4 linked regions of the Homo sapiens genome follow. The protein of the gene in region 1 interacts with the protein of each later gene in a biochemical or structural test. Each region holds a gene or a part of one and is shown in the gene's direction. Other genes may lie near its edges.

Region 1 (3,500 bases):
AGCTGGGATTACAGGCATGTGCCAACACACCAGGCTAATTTTGTATTTTTTAGTAGAGATGGGGTTTCACTATCTTAGTCAGGCTGGTCTCGAACTTCTGACCTCGTGATCCGCTCACCTTGATCTCCCAAAGTGCTGGGATTATAGATTACAGGCGTGAGCCACCGCGCCCGGCTAAAATATGTTTTGTTACTACAATAATACAAATTTATTATTGCTTAATTATCTGGGAATTTTGTAAAACAACTTCTTCTTGTGGCCTTTCATATCTTATAATTTATATACTATTTTGAAATAAAAATTTATTCTTATTTAAATTGCAGTTACTTTTAGAAGATTTCACTTTTTTTTTTTTTTGAAATGGAGTCACGCCCTTGTTGCCCAGGCTGGAGTGCAGTGGTGCCATCTCGGCTCACTGCAGCCTCCACCTCCCGGGTTCAAGTGATTCTTCTGCCTCAGCCTCCCGGGTTCAAGTGATTCTCCTGCCTTGGCCTCCCAAATACCTGGGATTACAGGTGCCTGCCACCACACCTGGCTAATTTTGTATTGTTAGTAGAGACAGGGTTTCTCCATGTTGGTTAGGCTGGACTCGAACTCCTGACCTCAGATGATCCACCCGCCTCAGCCTCCCAGAGTGTTGGGATTACAGGCGTGAGCCACCATGCGTGGCCAGGAAGATTTCACTTGTAAGGAAAAACATGAGAATAATTCGTGGCATGTGGTGGCTCATACCTATAATCCCAGCACTTTGGGAGGCTGAGGTGGAAGGATTGCTTGAACCTAGGAGTTCGAGACCAGGCTAGGCAACATAGTGAGACTCCATCTCTACAAAAAATTAAAAAATAAATAATCCTGGCATGGTGGTGGACTCCTGGAGTCCCAGCTAATCAAGAGGCTGAGGCAGGAGGATTGCTTGAGCCCAGGAGGTCAAGACTGCGGTGAGCTGTCATCACACCACTGCATTCCAGCTTGAGTGACAGAGCAAGACCCTGTTTCCAAAAAAACAGAGTAACCATATTTAAATTATCTTTTATGATACATTTTAAAATTAGTGTCAGGTCAAAATTCTCTTACTAAAAAATTTGGGAAGTACGGTCTTACGCTAAAATACAGCTTGAGACTTTTTTTAATCAGTCAGGTAATGATGTTAGTAAGTAAGCACTGTGTCAAGAATTGTCTAGTATAGTTATATGAAAACCTATGGTACTAAAGAACAAATTATGCTAAATTTGGGTGGTGGGTTTCTTCTTATAGGGAACTATTAGGATAAAAATTCATCTTAAGAATGCTTTTTTGAAATTTTTATTCAATCAAAACTTACCTACTAAGTTTTGCTGTATGATGCTGTTTAAGATTCTGAATGTGTTTGACTGTAGTATGAATAAAATACAAAAAAAATTTCAAAAATTGGCTCGGCACTGTGGCTCATGCCTGTAATCCCAGCACTTTGGAAGGCTGAGGCGGATGGATCACCTGAGGTCAGGAGTTTTTGAGACCAGCCTGGCCAACATGATGAAAACCTGTCTCAGCCGGGCACGGTGGCTCATGCCTGTAATCCCAGCACTTTGGGAGGCTGAGGCAGGAGGATCACTTGAGGTCGGGAGTTCGAGACCAACCCAACCAACATGGAGAAACCTCGTCTCTACTAAAAATACAAAATTAGCCGGACGTGGTGGCACATGCCTGTAATCTCAGCTACTTGGGAGGCCGAGGCAGGAGAATTGCTTGAACCCGGGAGGTGGAGGTTGTGGTGAGCTGAGATCACGCCATTGCACTTCAGCCTGGGCAATAAGAGCGGCACAACTCCGTCTAAAAAAAAAAAATAAAATAAAACCTATCTCTACTAATTATGCAAAAAATTAGCCAGGTGTGGTGGTGGGCACCTGTAATTCCATCTGCTCAGGAGGCTGAGGTAGGAAATCACTTGAAACCGGGAGGCAGAGGTTGCAGTGAGTTGAGATAGTACCACTGCACTCCAGCCTGGGCAACAAGAGTGAAACTGTGTCTGAAAAAAAAATTTTTTTTTCAAAAATTATTTTATCATTAATAGCAATATGTTGTAGTACTCTTTAATGAAGCTCTTTCTACTTTTTTTTTTTAGACAGAGTCTCACTCTTTTGCCCAGACTGGAGTGCAGTGGCACAATCTTGGCTCACTGCTACCTCCATCTCCCAGGTTCAACCGATTCTCATGCCTCAGCCTTCTGAGTAGCTGGGACTGGGATTAAAGGTGTGTGCCACCACACCCAGCTAATTTTTATATTTTTAGTAAAGATGGGGTTTTTACCATGTTGGCCAGGCTGGCCTTGAACTCCTGACCTGAAATGATCTGCCCACCTTGGCCTCCCAAAGTGTAGGGATTACAGGTGTGAGCCACTGTGCCCGGCCAATCTTTATCTCTATTTTATTTTCATAAATACCCTAAGGAATTTGCTAGAGTAAGTATTAATAGTATGAGTAGTAATCTATTGAAACTTTCTCTGTCAGTGATTTTCCATTTAAAAGGTAAACCTTAGGTTTAATCTGATGGTAAGTTAAATTGCATTTTTTTTTTTTTTTTGGAGACGGAGTCTCCCCCATCACCCAGGCTAGAGGCGTGATCTCGGCTCACTGCAACCTCCCACCTCCTGGGTTCAAGCGATTCCCCTCACTCAGCCTCAGAAGCAGCTGGGACTACAGGCGCACACCACCACGCCTGGCTAATGTTTGTATTTTTAGTAGAGACGGGGTTTCGTCATGTTGGCCAAGCTAGTCACGAACTCCTGATCTCAAGTGATCTCCCATCTTGGCCTCCCAAAATGGTGGGATTACAGGTGCAAGCCACCGTGCCCGGCTGCACTTTTCTGGTTTTCTAAAGTCATAGGATTTCAAAATAGGGAAGGGGCTTTTAGAGGTAACCTAGTCTGAATACTTAGTTGTTCACAATTCTCCTTATAACGGTCATCCAGAGTGTTTAACTCCATCTTGAGAAGCTGATTTCCTTTTAAGGTTCATACTACTAATAAAGTACACTTTGTTTAAATATTCAGAAAACTTATTGAAAATATGTTATGATTAAAGGTTAAGTGTGCTTATCTGACGGTTTATTGGAATCTTGTCTTTGTGGGTTTTTTTAAGTCCTCATGGACATCTCTTTCCCCAACCTGTGAGAATGTTTGCAAAACTGAGATTTAAAGCTAAAAGGCAGACAAACTTTGATTTGTAGTTATTTTAGTTTATAATACTTTGTTCCCTAAATGTCATTGTGAGATTGCTGCTTCTCACGTTAACTTTTTTCTTTTACATTGAGGTGTAACTTACAGTGTAATGCACAAATTTCAAGCGTACAGTTCAATAAATTTTCATATGTGTACACCTGTTTTGTAGCCATCACGCAGATCAAGATATATAACATTTTTATAGCACTCTAGTGGGTTGTTTCATCTCCTTTCCAGTCAATACTTCTTCACAAAGGTAATTTATTCTGACCTTTATCATTGGGTGACTATTTATTTCATTAAC
Region 2 (3,500 bases), on another chromosome or scaffold:
CCCTCGGAAGGGAGGCTGGGTGGTCCATGGACATCTGCAGTCGGTGTGTGTTGCCCCTTACCCTGCTCCAGGCTCGGACACCACCTATAGAAAGAGGTCAGACTGCAGAGGCTGAGTCTCAGCTCCTGTGCTGAGAAGCAGAGGGCATTTCTTCCTGTTTGAGAAGCATGTTCTCAGGGTTACGTTCCTATGTGGTAAAATACTAATATCTTTAAAGGCAAGAGAATTGTATACCCAAAATTCAGAAAAGTGCTTCCCTTGGGGAGCGGGAGAAGCTAGGGGATGGGATTGAGGAGGAGTACACACGGAGGATCAGAGGGACTGGGAGTGTTTCTAAGTTTGGAGGTGGGCTCTGAGGACCTCATTTGAATGCTTCAGAACATATATGTATGTTATAAATTTTTTTTGTATGACTCCAGTATTATATGATGAGAAATTTAAAAATAGAAAGCATATGGAGCTCCAAGCATTGACTCATAGCAGGAAGGCAGTCTTCGAAGAGCAGAAAGGCAAAGGCCCTGTAGGCAGTTGGAGGTTTGAGTCCCAATACCATTGCTTCCCAGCTTGGTGGCCTTGGGCAAGTTATTTAACCTTCCTAAGCCTCGATTTCCTTATCTGTAAAATGGGGATGATAATAGCACCTACCTCTAAGGATGTGGGGAGGATTTGATGGAATAATGCAGATAAACTACTTGGCTTGGTATGGATCAAATAGATGTTAGCTGCTCTTACATAATCATTATTTTCCAATCTAATGAGCAAAGGGATGGAAGAATGGAAGAGTAAAATAGGAACTCGACAACACCAAGTAAGACAGGAGCTGAGGACATCTCCCATGCTCTGGGCCATCCTATTGGCCATCCGAATTTTCCAGCACTGTGTGAAAGCCTTTGCCTAGAATGTACTAGTGTTTCTAGTTTCCGATGAGCTGCTGTGGAGGTAACTGTCTCTGTGCCCTCTACTGTCAGATCTGCTCAACTGTGTAGCTGTCAGTATTTCTCCGTTTTCCTGGAGCAGAGGGTCTGTGAAGCATGCTTCCCTGATACACCAGGACCATCCAACCCATGGAAGCTTGTTGAGACCTCAGCGCCCTTGGCTGCTGGGCCAGCTTTTCCTCCCAAACCTGCCCTCAGAGCATTTTACATTATAGAAACAAAACAAAACCAAAAAAACTGCAGGCAGTTTCACAGTGAAGGAAGCTTTACCTAAAGACTGTTAGAAGAAGCTTTTTGTCCTTGAATTCCCAGATAAAGTTCTTGCAGTCCTTGCAGATATGGTGGTTCCGAGAAAATAAGTAGGATTTTGCAATGATCATGCTTATAATTTTGGTCAGTTTTCTTTTTTTTAAGTCACAGAAAATAGAACTTGGATAAATACAGACCTGGTTTTGCTCACTCCCAGTTTGCCAAGTCAGTGAGAGGGCAGACGGGTAAATGATTCCCATCGGACCCTTGACTCCATCCCTGTCAAATCATTTGAATCTTATTAACTGAAGTGCAGATAGAGTAAGGTCAGAAGAGCCCCAGCTTCTCCCTATCTCTACCGTTTTATATAACATTCAGGAATAAAACCAGTGCTGCCTGGGCTTGTTAATCCTTTCCATTTTCAAAAAGGAGAGGAAAAAAAAAACAGTCTGGGAGAACCCAATGTTAATTAACTTGTGTCTTGGTGACATGAAATAATTCTTCTCCCTGCCACATTCCTAGGCAACATGTTAATTAACTCTGCATTAGTGCAGGCATTTCCAGCCATTCTTTAATATTTATATTATTGTTATTAAAATGGGCAGCAGAGAGCTTAAGATGGGACATCTCTTGACAGAGGAGAAAAATTGTCTTTTGCGTCAGGGATGGTCCTTTAGCCAAGGTCTTGTTTACTGGCATTCTTAGTATATCTGGCAGGATCTTTTAACAAGGCAAGTTGGAGGAGTAACTGAACGGGCCCTCTAATGTGTTTGAGTTCTTCACCCCTAGGATAACTTGTCCCCGTGAGGATTTCCAATGGCTGAGTTGCCTGTTACAGTTCTTTTCCGACATTTAGCTTCAAACATTCATGAGACCCCCATGCAGAACCTCAACTCTGCTGCTGTGTTGTATTGTTGGGAACCCAAGAGCAGCTGTTCATGTCTGTGCTGAGCCAGATCTCCTTGGATCCCTTTTCACTAATTCTTGTGTGCTGGGAGTGGTGGGGTGGCGGTGATGGCAGTGGTTTTGCTTTTAACAGCCAGCACCTGAATCTGTTAGAGCCAGAAGTATGCCTGCCCCAACTAGACCCCCAACGGACCTTAACCAGTGACAGACATGGTGGGAGTACCAAGCCCCGCAGCCTTGCCTGGAGCCAGGCATAACTTATATTCCAGGGTCCCTCCCCTCTGAGGGACTTTGCCTGAGGATACAACTTGGCTTGGCTTCCTCCCCTTCCCTCCAGCCTCCCCTGCTGCCTTCCAGGTTTTTCCTGAGAATGCCTCATTCATAAATCACTGGCACATCAATCCTTGCCTCAGGGGCTGCTTCTGGGATATCCAGCCTAAGATACCAATTCTTGGTGCCAGAGGTTAATGCTCAAGTTAGGTGTCAAGTCCCGGCTTATTTTTTACTAATATTAGAATCTCCGAATCCCAGAGCTGGAAGGGGCTACAGAGACCTTCTTTTTCAGTTCCCTTGCTTTATGGCTTAAGTCACAGAAGCCTGTACAGGGGACTCCATTTGCTCAGGTCACCTGGCAAGTTAGAGGTCATGCTGGGACCTGAACTTGTCTCCCACATATTCGTCCTTTGTCCTTCCCTTCATAGCTGCCTGATGTGGGTTGTAATTTACCCCCTGACTTCCCTTTAATAAGCTCCCTCCTTCCTTAAGGATCGCACACCCCAGGCAGTTGGATTCATTCCATGCACACTGTTTTCTCAGTCGTTCATCCTTGCTCAGGCCCAAACTTAACTTACAGAGCAGTCAGGAAACCAGAACTGTCTTTCCACTCTGTGACCTCCAATGTGGCGGTTACCTGCAGCTCCACCATCTGCTACGTTGGGATAAAATGTTCTCCCCCCAGTAATGAGTTTGCTCCCAGGCGGTGCTTTGAAAACACTCAGAGATCTTCAAATGGAAAGCAGGATTCAGAGGCAAATTAGCTGGCCCTGGCCCGAACAATGAGCTCTCCACTCACAGACCACCTCTTGTCAATTCCATTAATCTCGCCCAAATATTGCAAAATGTGTCAACTGCCCTTAGGTCCCCTACAACCTCTCAGAATGTACCCACTGATTCTCTGATATCCTGAAATCAACCAGAACTTCCAATAAGAGCAAGCATTCACCTAAAACTGTCCTAAAGGTTTTATGTAGAAACCACCTGCTAACATGCTATGTTTTCAGCCACGAGTGAAAATTACTTCCTGCAGCAAGACTGGCACAGCTGGGAATACACCCAAGATGTGTTAAAACATAACCAGCGTTGGCTTAGCCCTTGACCATGGGTGCCCTGACATGCTTCGTTTGGTTGTTT
Region 3 (2,518 bases), on another chromosome or scaffold:
GCTGTCATGTCTGGTCGTGGCAAGCAAGGAGGCAAGGCCCGCGCCAAGGCCAAGTCGCGCTCGTCCCGCGCTGGCCTTCAGTTCCCGGTAGGGCGAGTGCATCGCTTGCTGCGCAAAGGCAACTACGCGGAGCGAGTGGGGGCCGGCGCGCCCGTCTACATGGCTGCGGTCCTCGAGTATCTGACCGCCGAGATCCTGGAGCTGGCGGGCAACGCGGCTCGGGACAACAAGAAGACGCGCATCATCCCTCGTCACCTCCAGCTGGCCATCCGCAACGACGAGGAACTGAACAAGCTGCTGGGCAAAGTCACCATCGCCCAGGGCGGCGTCTTGCCTAACATCCAGGCCGTACTGCTCCCTAAGAAGACGGAGAGTCACCACAAGGCAAAGGGCAAGTGAGGCTGACGTCCGGCCCAAGTGGGCCCAGCCCGGCCCGCGTCTCGAAGGGGCACCTGTGAACTCAAAAGGCTCTTTTCAGAGCCACCCACGTTTTCAAATAAAAGAGTTGTTAATGCTGGCCACTCTCAGTCCAGCGTTCCTCAGTAGTGAATAGCGAACCTGGAGCTGACGGGACGGGACGGGACGGGACGGGACGGGACGGGGCGGGGCGGGGCGGGGTGTGTGTGTGTGCGCGCCGTCTTCCATCTGGAGCACGTAACTGCCTTGGCTCTTCGATGAGTGGGTCCCCAGTCCTAGGACTTCCCAGGGCAGGTGCAGGCACCAAACGTCCTGGGCGCCGCCACGGTCCGCTCCACACAGTCACAAACACCAGCGCCGCGGGCAGTACCCAACGCGCTGAAGTGTTGCGCGCGGAGCGCGCGCTTCCCTAGTGGTTTCCGCAGGCTATGGCCGGACACTTAGACCTAGTCTGGCACCAGCGGGACGTGCTCCTCGTCCCCACCCCCGATGGGGAGGGCCCTGAGCGGGTAGTGCTCGCTAGTGTGGCGGAGCTGGGTCTTGGCTTCACTGAGCTGACTTAAGTCTTAGTTTCTGTTTTGTTTTCCAAAGCGCCCTGGCGGCGGAGAGTAAGGGCCTCGGAGGCGGAATCTTGCGTCCTGGGGGCGGGCACCTCTCCCACCCAAAAGGCACCCGACAGGCGAAAAACGATCCGCCAAGTAGCAACTGGGGGCGGGGGGCAAATGGAAGAATGAGGTTCCACGCGGGAGCTGTAGGGCGCAGCAAGAAAGGGGGGGTATTGCGGGCAGTGTGTTCTAAGGAAGCGAAGGGCGGAAAGGGAACAATCTGACAAAGCTGCAATGGAAAATGACTTTCACCCTGAAGGAAAGGGGAAAAACAAGCTTGCGAAACTTCGCCAACTGGTAAGTAGAAAGTGAGGCGGGGTGGGCGGGATTAGGGAGGAATCTGCCCAAGCCAACCGGTGACTTTAGGACGGGTGACGTCACAGCCAATGGACAGCCAGCGCGGGATTTTCAATTATTGTTCCGCCCAATCGGGAAAAGACTGTGCTTATAAAGACGGCTGCGGCGGGGCTAGGAGCTCGTTTTTCTCCCCGCCGCTGCGCTGGTAAGCCTGTGTTTTGGTTCGCTATGGCCCGTACTAAGCAGACTGCTCGCAAGTCGACCGGCGGCAAGGCCCCGAGGAAGCAGCTGGCCACCAAGGCGGCCCGCAAGAGCGCGCCGGCCACGGGCGGGGTGAAGAAGCCGCACCGCTACCGGCCCGGCACCGTAGCCCTGCGGGAGATCCGGCGCTACCAGAAGTCCACGGAGCTGCTGATCCGCAAGCTGCCCTTCCAGCGGCTGGTACGCGAGATCGCGCAGGACTTTAAGACGGACCTGCGCTTCCAGAGCTCGGCCGTGATGGCGCTGCAGGAGGCCAGCGAGGCCTACCTGGTGGGGCTGTTCGAAGACACGAACCTGTGCGCCATCCACGCCAAGCGCGTGACCATTATGCCCAAGGACATCCAGCTGGCCCGCCGCATCCGTGGAGAGCGGGCTTAAGAAGTGGCGGTTCGGCCGGAGGTTCCATCGTATCCAAAAGGCTCTTTTCAGAGCCACCCACATCAGCACTTGGAAGAAGCTGTACCGCTTGCCCTCCGTGCTCCTCCGGCATTAGAGCGGGGAAGGCACTTCCGCTTAGGCTCCCAACAAAACGGGGTCGGGTCCCCCTGCTGCGGTGCCGTCTTGAGCTTTGCCGACTTCGGCCAATTGGCCTATCCGCACTGGCCGGGCTGCGGACGCTTTCCTGGGCGCCGGCTCGCGGGCTTTGGCGGTCCGGCTCCCCCCGCGCGTGACCGGGGCCCTGCGTGGCGGGGGGGCCGGGGCAGGAGAGACGGGGCGTCGGGCACGAGGCCAGGGGTCACTAGGGGGACGCTCAGGGCTCGCGGTCCTGAGCGCGGCTGGCCTTTGCGGAAGTGGAGCGCCACACGCCCGTGCTTCGCGCCCAAACCGGCCTCACCCGGCGCGGCCATCCGGCTAGGGAGGGAAATGACCACCTCGGCCTCGCCGGGGTTCTGCGGACAAACGTGGGGAGAACTGCGCTGGGGCTGCCGTTCAGTCCC
Region 4 (3,500 bases), on another chromosome or scaffold:
TACAGAGAGCTTCTAAATCATTGCCAGGGGTCATTTTCATACCTTTTGAACATGTTTTGAAAATAGATTACAGGGCCAGGCGCAGTGGCTCACGCCTGTAATCCCAGCACTTTGGGAGGCCGAGGCGGGCAGATCACGAGGTCAGGAGATCGAGACCATCCTGGCTAACACGGTGAAACCCCATCTCTACTAAAAATACAAAAAATTAGCCGGGCATGGTGGCGGTTGCCTGTAGTTCCAGCTACTCAGGAGGCTGAGGCAGGAGAATGGCGTGAACCTGGGAGGCGGAGCTTGCAGTGAGCTGAGATCATACCACTGCACTCCAGCCTGGGCAACAGAGCGAGACTCCATCTCAAAAAAAAAAAAAAAAAGAAAAGAAAATAGATTACATGACTATCTAATTATCTAGTGAATGTAAAAATAAATAATGAAGGCCGGGCACGGTGGCTGAAGCTTGTAATCCCAAATGAGGCAGGTGGATCACCTGAGGTCAGGAGTTCAAGACCAGCCTGGCCAACATGGCAAAACCCTGTCTCTACTAAAAATAGAAAAATTAGCCAGGCATGGTGGCACATGCCTGTAGTCCCAGCTACTTGGGAGGCTGAGGCAGGAGAATCGCTTGAACCCAAGAGGCAGAGGTCACAGTAGGCCAAAATCGTGCCACTGCACTCCAGCCTGGGTGACAGAGCAAGACTCCATCTCATAAATAAATAAATACTTTTGTTTTAAAAGCATATTATTGACCTACCTGTAAGGAATAATTGGTTGAGGGAAGAATTGTGAAAAAAGATGTAGAAAAGATGTAGGGTTGTAAGGGGCTAGAAAAACCCGTGCAGCTGGTAGAGAGGGAATGGAAAGCAGATCCTGTGAAAGGATAGCACAGGAAGAGAGGCAAAATCCATAATCCTTACTTTATTTTTGATCAACACAGTACTGCCAACCCTCAGATTAAGGCAAGGTAAGCAGATTTATATCATCTTTACTCATATCTTCTGATAGATTTACTAAAGATGATTCCATATCTACTAAATTAGAAAGCCAGAGCTACCGCCTTAAACTGCTTGGAGTGCAAATATTCACAAAGAGGCAAAACTGTGACCCAAATTCCTGATTTTTGCTTTTGCTTCCCTTCTTCTCAGGTGCTCTCTACTAGGTAAGATTGGGAGATATTGGACTACTACTAAAATTTAGTGCTCACTTCATTCTACCTCTCAACCTCTACTTTGTCCTTAATGTTTTGCTCCTTTAATGTAGGCAGAGGTTCAAGAAACCAGGAAGATGAGTGATCATAATTTTCACGTTTTATCGTAGTGACTTATTTCATGCCTCTTTCTCCCAGTAGACTACATATTCCATGAGGGCAAAGGCCATGTTATTCATATCTAGCTAGTGCCCAGCATAAGTAACTCACTATCTGTTGAGTGAATGAGTAAACCTAATTTATTATTTTGGAATACATTTCTGTTTTAAATTTATTATTTTTTTTTAGATATGCAACCATTGTCTCCAATTTCTGTCCATGAACGCTACAGTTCTCCTACCGCAGGGAGTGCTAAGAGAAGACTCTTTGGAGAGGACCCCCCAAAGGAAATGCTTATGGACAAGATCATAACAGAAGGAACAAAATTGAAAATCGCTCCTTCTTCAAGCATTACTGCTGAAAATGTATCAATTTTACCTGGTCAAACTCTTCTAACAATGGCCACAGCCCCAGTAACAGGAACAACAGGACATAAAGTTACAATTCCATTACATGGTAACGTTATAGTGCATTTGTTTTGTACTTTTTCTGAGATAAAAATTTAAGAAATGTCTTAGTGGATTAGATCACATGGTTTTTCTAACTCATTATTTTTTCTTGAACCTATACTTTTTTTTTTTAAATAGATTTGAATTTTTTAGAGCAGTTGTAGATTCACAGCAAAATTCAGAGGAAGGTACAGACATTTCTCATAGTCCCCCTTCCCCAACCAGAGGCATATAAAGCCTCCCTCATTATCAGTATTCCACACCAGAATGCTACATTTGTTACAGTTGATGAACCTACATTACTGACACATTACCCAATGCCCATAGTTTACATTAGGGTTCACTCTTGGTGAATAGTTTATTGATTTTGAGAACGTATAATGACATGTATCTGTCACTATAGCTCCATACAGAGTAGTTTCACTGCCCTATAAATCCTCTGTGCCCCACCTTTTTGTTTTGAACCTATAGTGGTTTTTTTTTTATTTTTAAATTTTATAAATTTACTACCCTCTCTGTTTGTTTAGACTTATTTTACTTTTTCTTTTCTTCTTTTTTTATTTTTTGAGACAGGATCTCACTCTGTCACCCACATTGGAGTACAGCAGCATGATCTCATCTCACTGCAACCTCTGCTCCCAGGCTCAAGTGATCGTCCCACCTCAGCCTCCTGAGTAGCTGGGACCACAGGCAAGTGCCACCACTCCCAGCTAATTTTTTCTATTTGTGGTACAGATGAGGTTTTACCATGTTGCCCAGGTCTCAAACTACTTTTAAAATGTTCTTATCTGAGCTTTCCAATATGTATGTATTGAGCAAAAATTCTGTTTTTTGACTAACAGCTCAAGTGCTCAAAATGTTAAAAAAAAAAATGCTTTTTTTTCCAATAAATTTAAACTATAAATGTATCCCAGGCAAATACAAAATAGAGAACAAAATTTGCTTTTTTTTCCATAAATTTAAAGTATAAAAACAAAACCGAATATTCTTGTTTCTAGAAAATAAGGATTTATGCGGGGCATGGTAGCTTTCACCTGTAATCCCAGCACTTTGGGAGACCAAGGCAAGAGGATCACTTTAGCCCAGGAGTTTGAGACCCAGACTGGGCAACATAGCAATATCCTATCTCTACAAAAAATTAAATTAGCTGGGCATGGTGATGTATGCCTATGGTCCCAGCTACTTAGGAGGCTGAGGCAGGAGAATCACTTGAGCCCAGGAATTTGAGGCTACAGTGAGCCATGATCACGCTACTGTACTCCAGCCAGGACAACAGAGCAAGACATTGTCAAAAAAAAAAAGAAAAAGAAAAAAAAAAGGGGGCCCGGGGGGCGCCAGGCACAGTGGCTCACACCTATAATCCCAGCACTTTGGGAGGCTGAGGCAGGTGGATCACTTGAGGTCAGGAGTTTGAGACCAGCCTGGCCAACGTGGTGAAACCCCGTCTCTACTAAAAATAGAGAAAAAACATTAGCCGGGTGTGGTGGCGCATGCCTGTAGTCCCAACTATTCAGGAGGCTGAGGCAGGAGAATTGCTTGAACCTGGGAGGCAGAGGTCTCAGTGAGCCAAGATGAGGCCACTGCACTCCCACCTGGGTGACAGAGTGAGACTGTCTCAAAAAAAAAAAAAAAAAGTCCAGCTGCAGTGGCTCATGCCTGTAATCCTAGCATTTTGGGAGGCCAAGGCAGGCAGATGGCTTGAGCTGACGAGTTCGAGACTAACCTGGGCAACATGGCAAAACTCCCATCTC

The links. Proteins that work in one complex are often made in the same cells at the same time.
Region 2: the proteins of KDM5A (region 1) and LMO2 form a complex in vitro, tested with the Homo sapiens proteins (one study listed by BioGRID).
Region 3: the proteins of KDM5A (region 1) and H3C15 form a complex in vitro, tested with the Homo sapiens proteins (one study listed by BioGRID).
Region 4: the proteins of KDM5A (region 1) and RBL1 form a complex in vitro, tested with the Homo sapiens proteins (one study listed by BioGRID).

The regions. Positions count from the first base shown.
Region 1 is NC_000012.12:379,321-382,820, reverse strand, and holds part of KDM5A (lysine-specific demethylase 5A), read left to right. Parts: intron 1-3,500. UniProt on the Homo sapiens protein: Histone demethylase that specifically demethylates 'Lys-4' of histone H3, thereby playing a central role in histone code. Does not demethylate histone H3 'Lys-9', H3 'Lys-27', H3 'Lys-36', H3 'Lys-79' or H4 'Lys-20'.
Region 2 is NC_000011.10:33,861,077-33,864,576, reverse strand, and holds part of LMO2 (rhombotin-2), read left to right. Parts: intron 1-3,500. UniProt on the Homo sapiens protein: Acts with TAL1/SCL to regulate red blood cell development. Also acts with LDB1 to maintain erythroid precursors in an immature state.
Region 3 is NC_000001.11:149,851,108-149,853,625, forward strand, and holds H3C15 (histone H3.2), read left to right. Parts: upstream 1-1,500; 5' UTR 1,501-1,547; coding exon 1,548-1,958; 3' UTR 1,959-2,018; downstream 2,019-2,518. Other genes in the region: H2AC19 (histone H2A type 2-A), read left to right, coding at 7-399. UniProt on the Homo sapiens protein: Core component of nucleosome. Nucleosomes wrap and compact DNA into chromatin, limiting DNA accessibility to the cellular machineries which require DNA as a template.
Region 4 is NC_000020.11:37,033,498-37,036,997, reverse strand, and holds part of RBL1 (retinoblastoma-like protein 1), read left to right. Parts: intron 1-1,489; coding exon 1,490-1,756; intron 1,757-3,500. UniProt on the Homo sapiens protein: Key regulator of entry into cell division. Directly involved in heterochromatin formation by maintaining overall chromatin structure and, in particular, that of constitutive heterochromatin by stabilizing histone methylation.